3 linked regions of the Homo sapiens genome follow. The protein of the gene in region 1 interacts with the protein of each later gene in a pairwise test. Each region holds a gene or a part of one and is shown in the gene's direction. Other genes may lie near its edges.

Evidence for each region.
Region 2: the proteins of ZNF385C (region 1) and PRR20C interact in a two-hybrid assay, tested with the Homo sapiens proteins (one large-scale study listed by BioGRID).
Region 3: the proteins of ZNF385C (region 1) and PRR20B interact in a two-hybrid assay, tested with the Homo sapiens proteins (one large-scale study listed by BioGRID).

The regions. Positions count from the first base shown.
Region 1 is NC_000017.11:42,088,403-42,092,046, reverse strand, and holds part of ZNF385C (zinc finger protein 385C), read left to right. Parts: intron 1-3,644.
Region 2 is NC_000013.11:57,152,807-57,156,951, forward strand, and holds the start of PRR20C (proline-rich protein 20C), read left to right. Parts: upstream 1-1,254; 5' UTR 1,255-1,468; intron 1,469-1,622; 5' UTR 1,623-1,641; coding exon 1,642-1,693; intron 1,694-2,714; coding exon 2,715-3,328; 3' UTR 3,329-4,145.
Region 3 is NC_000013.11:57,145,994-57,150,411, forward strand, and holds the start of PRR20B (proline-rich protein 20B), read left to right. Parts: upstream 1-1,494; 5' UTR 1,495-1,708; intron 1,709-1,862; 5' UTR 1,863-1,881; coding exon 1,882-1,933; intron 1,934-2,954; coding exon 2,955-3,568; 3' UTR 3,569-4,418.

The DNA.
Region 1 (3,644 bases):
GCAGAACCTGGACTGGAACCTGGGTCTCCTCACCCCTCACAGCCAGGGCTCCTTGCCAGACCATGCTGGAGCTGCTCCTTTGATTAAAAGAGTCACAGGCTGCAGTCACCCCTGGCTCTTCCTGAATCTCCCCCTCACCCAAAGCTCCTCTACCTTCACACACCAAGACTCCTGGTCCCTGAGTCTCTGGCTGGGAGGTGAATATAGGGGCAGGTAGCATTCTTGTGACCTTATTCTGAAATTTGCTGTCCTAGTTAGCAGCTTCCTGAGGGGAGAGGGACACAAGAAGCTTTTAGAGATGGTTTCAACCCTCTGGGTGCTAATTGGGAATGAGACTCTCCCTAGGTTGAGACTGGGGACAGCTATTCTGGGTCTGCAAGATGAGGTGTGGGGGTGGAGAGGCCAGAGGGGGGATCAGGAAGTTTCCCCAAATAGCCTGGCCTGAAGCCACACGTGGGAGCCAAGCCCCAAGAAGGTGGCCTAGATGAAGGGGTGGAGGGGGAGCTGTCCATTTGGCACATGGGCCTGACCCTTGGGAAGCTGGGCATAGGGCAAAAATCAGGAGCAGGACTGGTTTTGTATCCTCTTTTCTTTTTTGTTTGAGATGAAGTCTCGCTCTGCCACCCAGGCTGGAGTACAGTGGTGCGATAACAGCTCACCGCAGCCTCCGCCTCCCAGGCCCAAGCAATCCTCCCACCCCAGCCCTCAGTCCAGAGCCTCACGAATAGCTGGGACTACAGGCACACACCTGGATAATTTTGTTACATTTTCTGTAGAGACAGGGGTCTCCCTCTGTTGCCCAGATTGGTTTCAAACTCCTGGGCTCAAGCGATCCTCCTGCCTCAGCCTCCCAAAGTGCTAGGATTACAGGCTCATGCCTGTAATGCCACCATGCGCAGCCAGTCTTCTCTTTGTTCTCCCACTGAAATGGGCTTCCTTGGAACTTGATGTCATAAGTGGGTGTGTCTCTACCCTGTCCCAGCCCCTACCCCCAAGCCCCAGCCTACTGTCCTAGCTCTCATCCCAGTGACACTGATTTACTCATTCATTTAACCAATATTTATGGAGCACCTACTATGTGTTATACTTGCTAGCCTCTGCCCTGGGAATTCAGGAGGAACAAGACAGGGTTCCAAGAGGGAACAAGATAGGTTCTCTTTTTTTTGAGACGGAGTCTCGCTCTGTCGCCCAGGCTGGAGTGCAGTGGCAGGATCTCGGCTCACTGCAAGCTCCGCCTTCCGGGTTCACGCCATTCTCCTGCCTCAGCCTCCCGAGTAGCTGGGACTACAGGTGCCCACCACTGTGCCCAGCTAATTTTTTGTATTTTTAGTAGAGATGGGGTTTCACCATGGTCTCGATCTCCTGACCTCGTGATCCGCCCGCCTCTGCTTCCCAAAGTGCTGGGATTACAGGCGTGAGCCACCGTGCCCAGCCTAAGATAGGTTCTCAAGAGGGAATAAGAGGCTGGGTGTGGTGGCTCACGTCTGTAATCCCAGCACTTTGGGAGACCAAGGTGGGTGGATCACTTGGGGTCAGGAGTTCGAGACCAGCCTGGCCAACATGGTGAAAACCCATCACTAATTAAAAATACAAAAATTAGTGCGTGATGGCGCAAGCCTGTAATCCCAGCTACTCGGGAGGCTGAAGCAGGAGAATCGCTTGAACCTGGGAGGTGGAGGTTGCAGTGAGCCGAGATCGCGCAATTGCACTCCAGCCTGGGCGACAGAACGAGACTCCATCTCAAAAAAAAAAAAAAAAAAAAAAAAAAAGGGAATAAGAGGAAATGGGAAGGAAGGAAAACTACCCTAGAGAGAGCAATGCAGGAAGGCGTCTTTCAGAGGTGATAGTTAAATATCAGCCATGAGAAGGAGGAGGGAGGGGTCAGAAGGAAAAGAGCACTCAAGGCAGAGAGAACAGGCTTTGAGAAAGCTCCCAAGTGAGGGGAAACTCGCTGTGCTCCAGGGACAGAAAGAGCCCAGTGTGGCTGGAAGGTGGGGAGTTATAGGAAACAGATCAGAGGGACACAGGATATTTTAACCACTACGGATATTTTGACCCGAAGGATGTTTTGAATGCAAACATTTTAAACCAAAACATACTAACCCTGAAAATGTTTTAAGAAGGTGTTCTCCAGCTTGAACTCTATTCATCCAACTTAATTCTTTGATCAGATTTTTGTTTTTCCCCTGTAGTACAGTTAAACAAATGTCCATGTTTTTCATTCTTTTGTAATTTTACTGAAACTGTTTTCATCGGCATCGATTCCGTACACATTCTGCTGCTGAGATTGGAGGCATCCATCAGTGTGGGGGCTGCAGGCTCTTGACACGAGTTTCTGCCATTGTGTGATTGACTGGGTAACCCCATTCCATTTTGGAAGATTTAAATTAAAACCAAAAAAAAAGATTCGTGGTCAAGATTTGATTCTTTTGTGCATTTTAGTCAATAATGAGTTTTCTTATATCCATTTCTAGCCATCCTCAGTGTTACTTCTACCCGTAATATTTTTAGGTGGAGAGTTGTATTTATATCTCAGTTGATCTGTGGGAGGAATCAGGTGGAAGGGGTGGACTGGGAGAGAAGGGCTTGGGGGAGGGGAAAGGCCCGGATCTTCCAGGCTGGGGCAAGCATTCTCCTAAAGCAAAGGGTGAAGCCTTTAGAGCTTTTATCCCAGAGCATGACTTGATCAGATTTGCCTTTATTTTTATTTATTTATTTATTTATTTATTTAGAGACAGGGTCTTATTCTGTCCCCTAGGCTGGAGTGTGGTGGTGTGATCACGGCTCACTGCAGCCTCGACCTCCCAGGTTCAAGCTATCCTCCCACCTCAGCCTCCTGAGTAGCTGGGACTATAGGTGTGCACCACCACACCCAGCTAATTTTTGTATTTTTTGTAGAGATGGAGTTGCCCAGGCTGGAGAGTTGCCCTTTTAATAGTCTCCCTCTGGCTGTGTGAAGATGGGACTGGGAGGGAGAGGAAGTGGGGAAGTAGAGGCAGGGAGACCAGTGAGGTGGCTGTTCTGCCAATCCAGGTGGTAAAGAGAAGTGAACCGGGCCAGGCATGGTGATGCGTGTGCCTGTAGTCCCAGTGTGTTGAGAGGCCAAGGCGGGAGGATCGCTTGAGGCCAGGAGGTCGAGGGTGCAGTGAGCTGTGATCGCACCACTGCACTCCAGCCTGGGTGACGGGTTACAGATAGAGTATGGGGTAAAAAAGGGCAGGGTAATCTCTGTCCCACTCCCCAGGATCCCACCGCAGCCCTCCTGCAACATGCAGAATGCCCTTGCTGCCATTCCCACACCCTTAGCTCCCTGCTTCTGGTATTTGAGGCAGCTTGGAGCTCTTCCCCCCAACACCCAGGCTCTGGCCACTTGGAGTTTGTACAGAGTCGAGACCAAGAACTGGGGCGTTTCCCTTGGAGGTTTCTCCTTCTTTGCACTGAGGGAGAGTCAGGGATGCCCTGCTGAGGTTGGGGTGGGGGATGGAAGGGATGGGAATGGCCCTGGGATCCACCTACCTCGAGTCCCGTGGCTGGAGCCGCCCAGGCGGCCGCAGACCTGGCGGTGAAACAGACCCAGACACAGGGCGCTTGTCCGGCGGTGCTCCGCCCTCTGGGTGTGACACTGGGCAGGGAGACAAAGGGGC
Region 2 (4,145 bases), on another chromosome or scaffold:
CAGCTACTCCGGAGGCCGAGACAGGAGAATCACTTGAACTGATTCTCCTATCTCAGCCCGCCCCGCCCCCCCCCCCCCCCCCCCCAAGTAGCCGCAGCGAGCCGAGATGGCACCGCTGCACTCCAGCCTGGGCTACAGAGCGAGAACCCGTCTCTGTAAAAGACACAAGGATGCAAACCAACCAAATAACCCACTGTGGGATCCCCTCCAGCGTCCTGCTGTGTTTCCCGCTGTCTTCCTCCACCCGTGAGTGCACCCACAGCAATAAAAGCCAGCGGTGTGGGTCTCACACGCATCTCCAGCCCCGTCGCCATCGCGCTGAGCTCGACTCTTTTTACAAAAGGCCACTTGACATCCTCACTTGGCAGTTCAAAAGCCCCTTCAACCAGATGTGCGCAAGCCAAGCTCCGCAACTTCCCGTTCAGAGCAGGTTCTCGGTCCACCTCTGCCTGAATGAACCGGCGGGCTACCAAGGCCGCAGTCTCTTCCTCAAGGGCTGTCCACACTGGGTCTCGCTTTCTCTTGGAAATTTCTCTCCCACCAGGGAACTTTCTCCTCCTCTACCTCCCTGAGTCTCAGTCTAACAGCACCCTGCGCCCAACCCCGAGGGCTGCAATAGCCTTCTTGCCTCTCCTGACTTATTCTGCGGACCCTGGGTTGGCGCTCCTTCACAGCCAGGCTGGTCGTTTCTGAAATGTTAACCCGCTGCCGGACACCGTTCCACGGTTTTCCGCTGCCTTGGAACAAGACCAGCTCCTGCGCGGACCCTGCCTCCACCTCGCACCACCTCCGGGCCTGGACTTGGCCTCCCGTCCATTCCCAGAATGTGCCGGGCTCCCTTCCAGTCCGGGCCTCAGCACACTCTCTTCACTCCCCTTCCTCCCTCCCTGCCTCTCCCAACCCGGTTCAGGATGACTAATTTCAAACGTTATGTTCCAGATTTCAGCCCAGATATCCCCGCTTTGGATGCTTTCCTTGACCATGCTCAGATCTAAGCTAATCGCATCTTCCTGTCAGCCGCTTTCAGGGCACCACACCTCATTGTGCTGACACTCAGAGGTCATTATGCAATTTTTTTTCCTCGATGATTAGATTAATCAATCAACCACGGACGTCTAGAAATGGCGGCATCTCAGAAGGGCCCCCATTTGACTGGCAGGGGACTGGCCCAATGCGCCTCGCAAGCCCAGCCAGGCCCGCCCCAGCCGGCCCCCCTCTGACGACGCCTGTCCCTTACGCGACTGCCTTGCTGCCATATAAGAGGGACGGCGCTCGGCCTCCAGCAGTCGGCTTTCTGCTGGGCTCGGAGCCAGAACCTGCTGCGTGCTCCCTCCAGACTCCCTGGCTGCGGGTGGACTACCTCAGAGCTACAGCGGTGAACCTGTGGACACCTCCGACTCCTCGGGCCTCTCTTCGTCGAAGAGTCTCCTAATTTTCAGATCTCCGGAGCCAGCTGTGGGAAGATCAGGTGTGTGTCTGGGGGTCCCGGAGGCGTGGACGGATCTCGGGTGGGTGCAGTTGGGGACAGAATCCTCATTCCCCTAGAAAGGCCACGGCCATCCCCCTGCCTTGTCACCTCTGTCTTCCTAAATCCGTTCTTGCTCTCTTGTTTTTCTCCCCAGCCCCTCCCGCCGATTGCTCATGGAGGAACCAAGGCCTTCGAAGCGACTTCGCTCCATGGCCCCTAATCAAGGTACATCAAACGCCTGCCACTCCTCTCTTTTTAATTTCGTCTGTTCCCCAATTCTTCCCCAATGGTTGACACTCAAACTCAATCAAGCATTCTCTGTTTCACCTTCTCCTAGCCTGCCTCAACCTGGGCTGCTTGTTGGAAGTCAGCTCCCGGGTTCCACATCATCTGGGAAATTCCTTTCCCTCTTCCGAACCGTAATCCCATTTCCCAAATCTGAGATTTGCTGTTGTTGTCGCTGTTTCCTTCTGTTTAGTTTTGTATTACTGTTTCTCCGTAGCAGAGCGAGTCCTCACGCTACGTCTTGATCTATGATAAACCGGTACTTCCACCTTGTTCTTTCCCGGAGGAGTTGGAATTTTCCGGCTGTTGCCACGTTGTTCTCCAAAACTTTTCCCTTCATACGCTGAGTGTCCTAAATCTTTTAATCTTGTCTAGTTTGACAGATGCATAACAATAAAGCATCCACTGAAAGGAAATTCTTTAACATCTTGCTTGTCTGAAACATCTTCATTCTCCCCTCCCAGATTCTTCAGCGAAACTTCGGTTGGACAGGAAATTTTAGGTGGGAAATTCATTTCCCTTGAAATTTCGAAGACATTTTCTGTTATGTTCTAGACTGAACTGCTGCTTTTGAGATGTCTGACTTTTGAGACATGTGGAATCCTAGCCCTTTCCATGTGACTTTTCCTTTCTCTGTCTCCCGCTCTCTAGAATCTGTTAGAATCTTCTCTTTTTCCTCAGCACTCTGAAATTTTCTGGTGAAATGTCTCAGCCACAGCATACCTCTAATTCTCTTATATTTCATCCTTCTTTCCATCATTTTAGGTTTTTGCTTTGTTCTGTGGGAGACCTTCTCAACTTCATTCTCCAACTTCCGTGGAGAGTTTTGTTTCTTCTCTCACAATTTTAACTTCAGAAATCCCTCTTTTCTCTGAGTATTTATTTGTAAAAGTATCCTATAACTGCTTGACGGGTGAAGTTCCTTCTGTCTCTCTCTGCTCACGCTCCGCTTCTCTTTTAGCCTCAGGTGGGCCTCCTCCAGAGCCAGGCTGCTGTGTTGCGGACCCTGAAGGCTCCGTGGAAGCAGATGGGCCCGCACAGCCAGCCCAACCCGCAAAACCCATCGCTTACGTGAAACCCTTCAGACGGCAGCCCCCAGCTCGCCCAGAGTCACCCCCTCCTGCAGAGAGAGGCCGGCGCCGGGGAGGAAGCCGGCGGCCAGGGCGAGGCCGTGGCAGAAGGGCTGGGCCCCGCGGGGACGCTGGCCAGAGACAGGGGGCAGAAGGCTTGATGGCACCGGACGTGCACATCCAACTGGACCACCATGGAGAGCCAGGCCACCAGGGGGAACCGGAAATCACGGAGACCGCAGCCTTCTCCCTTTCTGAAACAGGTCCTCCGCCTGGAACTGTGCAGGAAGGCCCTGGCCCCGACGTGGCGCAACCTGAGCTGGGGTTTCAGGAGCCGCCCGCTGCTCCTGGGCCTCAGGCTGTTGACTGGCAACCCGTCTTGACCCTCTATCCCTGCATCGGGTTTAGGGCTCTGGGTGACTCAGCGGTTTTACAAGTCATTCAAACCCCCCAGGGCACCTACGTGCAAGGGGTCCCAGTGTTCCTCACCGACATTGCGTATTGACCACTATCTGCCACCCACGTTGTTCCCAGCCTCCCTTCCTTCCACCTGGACGTTCCCCCCAGCCCCACTTCTGCTCCACTCCTCCCCCGACTGGACCTGAAGCCTGAGCTTCCCCTGAACTTGGAGTACGCAACTTACAACATGCAAGCTGCCAAACACCCTTTCTGTACAAGGCGATTGGAATGGAACTGTCATGTACAGTGAAAGTACACGTCACGTTTTTCAGCCAAGAAGAAGCCAACCCAGACAACCTGGAAGAAGTGGGATGCAACAAGGATCACTAAGCATGGAAATTAGGAAACTGTATTCTTAAGTCCAGAGAAGTACGATTCTGGAAAAAGGATTGATGACCTAGAATTAAAATTCCAGAAGACACTCATATAGACATGTGGGACATGCGAAAACTCAGAAGGAGCTAGAAGTTACTAAAGTGCTTCTCTAGTGCCTGGAGACGATAGACTGGCTGAATATAAGAGCAATAAAAATCTAGACTGACACATTTTTAAGTCTCAACGTGGGTACCCTTTGGGAACCACTAAATGAATTGGAATAGAAGGTAAAATTTCAAACAGATTGAGGAAAAAGGGGATCAAAGGACATGTGACGAATCAGACAAAAGGTGTTGGGGTGGGGGGGGGGGCGGTTAACGGAAGCAAGGAGAGTGCATGACTCACTGGAACCGCTAAACCAGGAATCAGTAATTTGACGGCAGTGTCCTTGGCTTCCTCCTGGCTTTAATGGGAATATTTTGAATGTTTCACCATTAACCAAGATGTTGGCTGTAGGTGTCTCTTAGATGTTTAAGTTGAGTTAGTTC
Region 3 (4,418 bases), on another chromosome or scaffold:
TTGGGACAGAAAAGGTATGTGAGGTGAAAGCATAGCAAAACCTCACTTCAACAGGAAATACAACCCAAAAAAATAATTGGCCGGGCATGGTGGCTTGCGCCTGGGGTCCCAGCGACTCGGGAGGTTGAGCGGGACGGACGGCTTGAGCTCAGGCCTTCCAAACAAGCCTGGGCACATAGCGAAACCTCGTCTCTCCAAAAAAATCCGAAAATTATCCCGATGTGGTGGCGCTCACCTGTAGTCCAGCTACTCCGGAGGCCGAGACAGGAGAATCACTTGAACTGATTCTCCTATCTCAGCCCCCCCCCCCCCCCCGCCCCACCCCAAGTAGCCGCAGCGAGCCGAGATGGCACCGCTGCACTCCAGCCTGGGCTACAGAGCGAGAACCCGTCTCTGTAAAAGACACAAGGATGCAAACCAACCAAATAACCCACTGTGGGATCCCCTCCAGCGTCCTGCTGTGTTTCCCGCTGTCTTCCTCCACCCGTGAGTGCACCCACAGCAATAAAAGCCAGCGGTGTGGGTCTCACACGCATCTCCAGCCCCGTCGCCATCGCGCTGAGCTCGACTCTTTTTACAAAAGGCCACTTGACATCCTCACTTGGCAGTTCAAAAGCCCCTTCAACCAGATGTGCGCAAGCCAAGCTCCGCAACTTCCCGTTCAGAGCAGGTTCTCGGTCCACCTCTGCCTGAATGAACCGGCGGGCTACCAAGGCCGCAGTCTCTTCCTCAAGGGCTGTCCACACTGGGTCTCGCTTTCTCTTGGAAATTTCTCTCCCACCAGGGAACTTTCTCCTCCTCTACCTCCCTGAGTCTCAGTCTAACAGCACCCTGCGCCCAACCCCGAGGGCTGCAATAGCCTTCTTGCCTCTCCTGACTTATTCTGCGGACCCTGGGTTGGCGCTCCTTCACAGCCAGGCTGGTCGTTTCTGAAATGTTAACCCGCTGCCGGACACCGTTCCACGGTTTTCCGCTGCCTTGGAACAAGACCAGCTCCTGCGCGGACCCTGCCTCCACCTCGCACCACCTCCGGGCCTGGACTTGGCCTCCCGTCCATTCCCAGAATGTGCCGGGCTCCCTTCCAGTCCGGGCCTCAGCACACTCTCTTCACTCCCCTTCCTCCCTCCCTGCCTCTCCCAACCCGGTTCAGGATGACTAATTTCAAACGTTATGTTCCAGATTTCAGCCCAGATATCCCCGCTTTGGATGCTTTCCTTGACCATGCTCAGATCTAAGCTAATCGCATCTTCCTGTCAGCCGCTTTCAGGGCACCACACCTCATTGTGCTGACACTCAGAGGTCATTATGCAATTTTTTTTCCTCGATGATTAGATTAATCAATCAACCACGGACGTCTAGAAATGGCGGCATCTCAGAAGGGCCCCCATTTGACTGGCAGGGGACTGGCCCAATGCGCCTCGCAAGCCCAGCCAGGCCCGCCCCAGCCGGCCCCCCTCTGACGACGCCTGTCCCTTACGCGACTGCCTTGCTGCCATATAAGAGGGACGGCGCTCGGCCTCCAGCAGTCGGCTTTCTGCTGGGCTCGGAGCCAGAACCTGCTGCGTGCTCCCTCCAGACTCCCTGGCTGCGGGTGGACTACCTCAGAGCTACAGCGGTGAACCTGTGGACACCTCCGACTCCTCGGGCCTCTCTTCGTCGAAGAGTCTCCTAATTTTCAGATCTCCGGAGCCAGCTGTGGGAAGATCAGGTGTGTGTCTGGGGGTCCCGGAGGCGTGGACGGATCTCGGGTGGGTGCAGTTGGGGACAGAATCCTCATTCCCCTAGAAAGGCCACGGCCATCCCCCTGCCTTGTCACCTCTGTCTTCCTAAATCCGTTCTTGCTCTCTTGTTTTTCTCCCCAGCCCCTCCCGCCGATTGCTCATGGAGGAACCAAGGCCTTCGAAGCGACTTCGCTCCATGGCCCCTAATCAAGGTACATCAAACGCCTGCCACTCCTCTCTTTTTAATTTCGTCTGTTCCCCAATTCTTCCCCAATGGTTGACACTCAAACTCAATCAAGCATTCTCTGTTTCACCTTCTCCTAGCCTGCCTCAACCTGGGCTGCTTGTTGGAAGTCAGCTCCCGGGTTCCACATCATCTGGGAAATTCCTTTCCCTCTTCCGAACCGTAATCCCATTTCCCAAATCTGAGATTTGCTGTTGTTGTCGCTGTTTCCTTCTGTTTAGTTTTGTATTACTGTTTCTCCGTAGCAGAGCGAGTCCTCACGCTACGTCTTGATCTATGATAAACCGGTACTTCCACCTTGTTCTTTCCCGGAGGAGTTGGAATTTTCCGGCTGTTGCCACGTTGTTCTCCAAAACATTTCCCTTCATACGCTGAGTGTCCTAAATCTTTTAATCTTGTCTAGTTTGACAGATGCATAACAATAAAGCATCCACTGAAAGGAAATTCTTTAACATCTTGCTTGTCTGAAACATCTTCATTCTCCCCTCCCAGATTCTTCAGCGAAACTTCGGTTGGACAGGAAATTTTAGGTGGGAAATTCATTTCCCTTGAAATTTCGAAGACATTTTCTGTTATGTTCTAGACTGAACTGCTGCTTTTGAGATGTCTGACTTTTGAGACATGTGGAATCCTAGCCCTTTCCATGTGACTTTTCCTTTCTCTGTCTCCCGCTCTCTAGAATCTGTTAGAATCTTCTCTTTTTCCTCAGCACTCTGAAATTTTCTGGTGAAATGTCTCAGCCACAGCATACCTCTAATTCTCTTATATTTCATCCTTCTTTCCATCATTTTAGGTTTTTGCTTTGTTCTGTGGGAGACCTTCTCAACTTCATTCTCCAACTTCCGTGGAGAGTTTTGTTTCTTCTCTCACAATTTTAACTTCAGAAATCCCTCTTTTCTCTGAGTATTTATTTGTAAAAGTATCCTATAACTGCTTGACGGGTGAAGTTCCTTCTGTCTCTCTCTGCTCACGCTCCGCTTCTCTTTTAGCCTCAGGTGGGCCTCCTCCAGAGCCAGGCTGCTGTGTTGCGGACCCTGAAGGCTCCGTGGAAGCAGATGGGCCCGCACAGCCAGCCCAACCCGCAAAACCCATCGCTTACGTGAAACCCTTCAGACGGCAGCCCCCAGCTCGCCCAGAGTCACCCCCTCCTGCAGAGAGAGGCCGGCGCCGGGGAGGAAGCCGGCGGCCAGGGCGAGGCCGTGGCAGAAGGGCTGGGCCCCGCGGGGACGCTGGCCAGAGACAGGGGGCAGAAGGCTTGATGGCACCGGACGTGCACATCCAACTGGACCACCATGGAGAGCCAGGCCACCAGGGGGAACCGGAAATCACGGAGACCGCAGCCTTCTCCCTTTCTGAAACAGGTCCTCCGCCTGGAACTGTGCAGGAAGGCCCTGGCCCCGACGTGGCGCAACCTGAGCTGGGGTTTCAGGAGCCGCCCGCTGCTCCTGGGCCTCAGGCTGTTGACTGGCAACCCGTCTTGACCCTCTATCCCTGCATCGGGTTTAGGGCTCTGGGTGACTCAGCGGTTTTACAAGTCATTCAAACCCCCCAGGGCACCTACGTGCAAGGGGTCCCAGTGTTCCTCACCGACATTGCGTATTGACCACTATCTGCCACCCACGTTGTTCCCAGCCTCCCTTCCTTCCACCTGGACGTTCCCCCCAGCCCCACTTCTGCTCCACTCCTCCCCCGACTGGACCTGAAGCCTGAGCTTCCCCTGAACTTGGAGTACGCAACTTACAACATGCAAGCTGCCAAACACCCTTTCTGTACAAGGCGATTGGAATGGAACTGTCATGTACAGTGAAAGTACACGTCACGTTTTTCAGCCAAGAAGAAGCCAACCCAGACAACCTGGAAGAAGTGGGATGCAACAAGGATCACTAAGCATGGAAATTAGGAAACTGTATTCTTAAGTCCAGAGAAGTACGATTCTGGAAAAAGGATTGATGACCTAGAATTAAAATTCCAGAAGACACTCATATAGACATGTGGGACATGCGAAAACTCAGAAGGAGCTAGAAGTTACTAAAGTGCTTCTCTAGTGCCTGGAGACGATAGACTGGCTGAATATAAGAGCAATAAAAATCTAGACTGACACATTTTTAAGTCTCAACGTGGGTACCCTTTGGGAACCACTAAATGAATTGGAATAGAAGGTAAAATTTCAAACAGATTGAGGAAAAAGGGGATCAAAGGACATGTGACGAATCAGACAAAAGGTGTTGGGGTGGGGGGGGGGGCGGTTAACGGAAGCAAGGAGAGTGCATGACTCACTGGAACCGCTAAACCAGGAATCAGTAATTTGACGGCAGTGTCCTTGGCTTCCTCCTGGCTTTAATGGGAATATTTTGAATGTTTCACCATTAACCAAGATGTTGGCTGTAGGTGTCTCTTAGATGTTTAAGTTGAGTTAGTTCCCATCTTTTCAGAGTTTGATAAATGTTGTATTA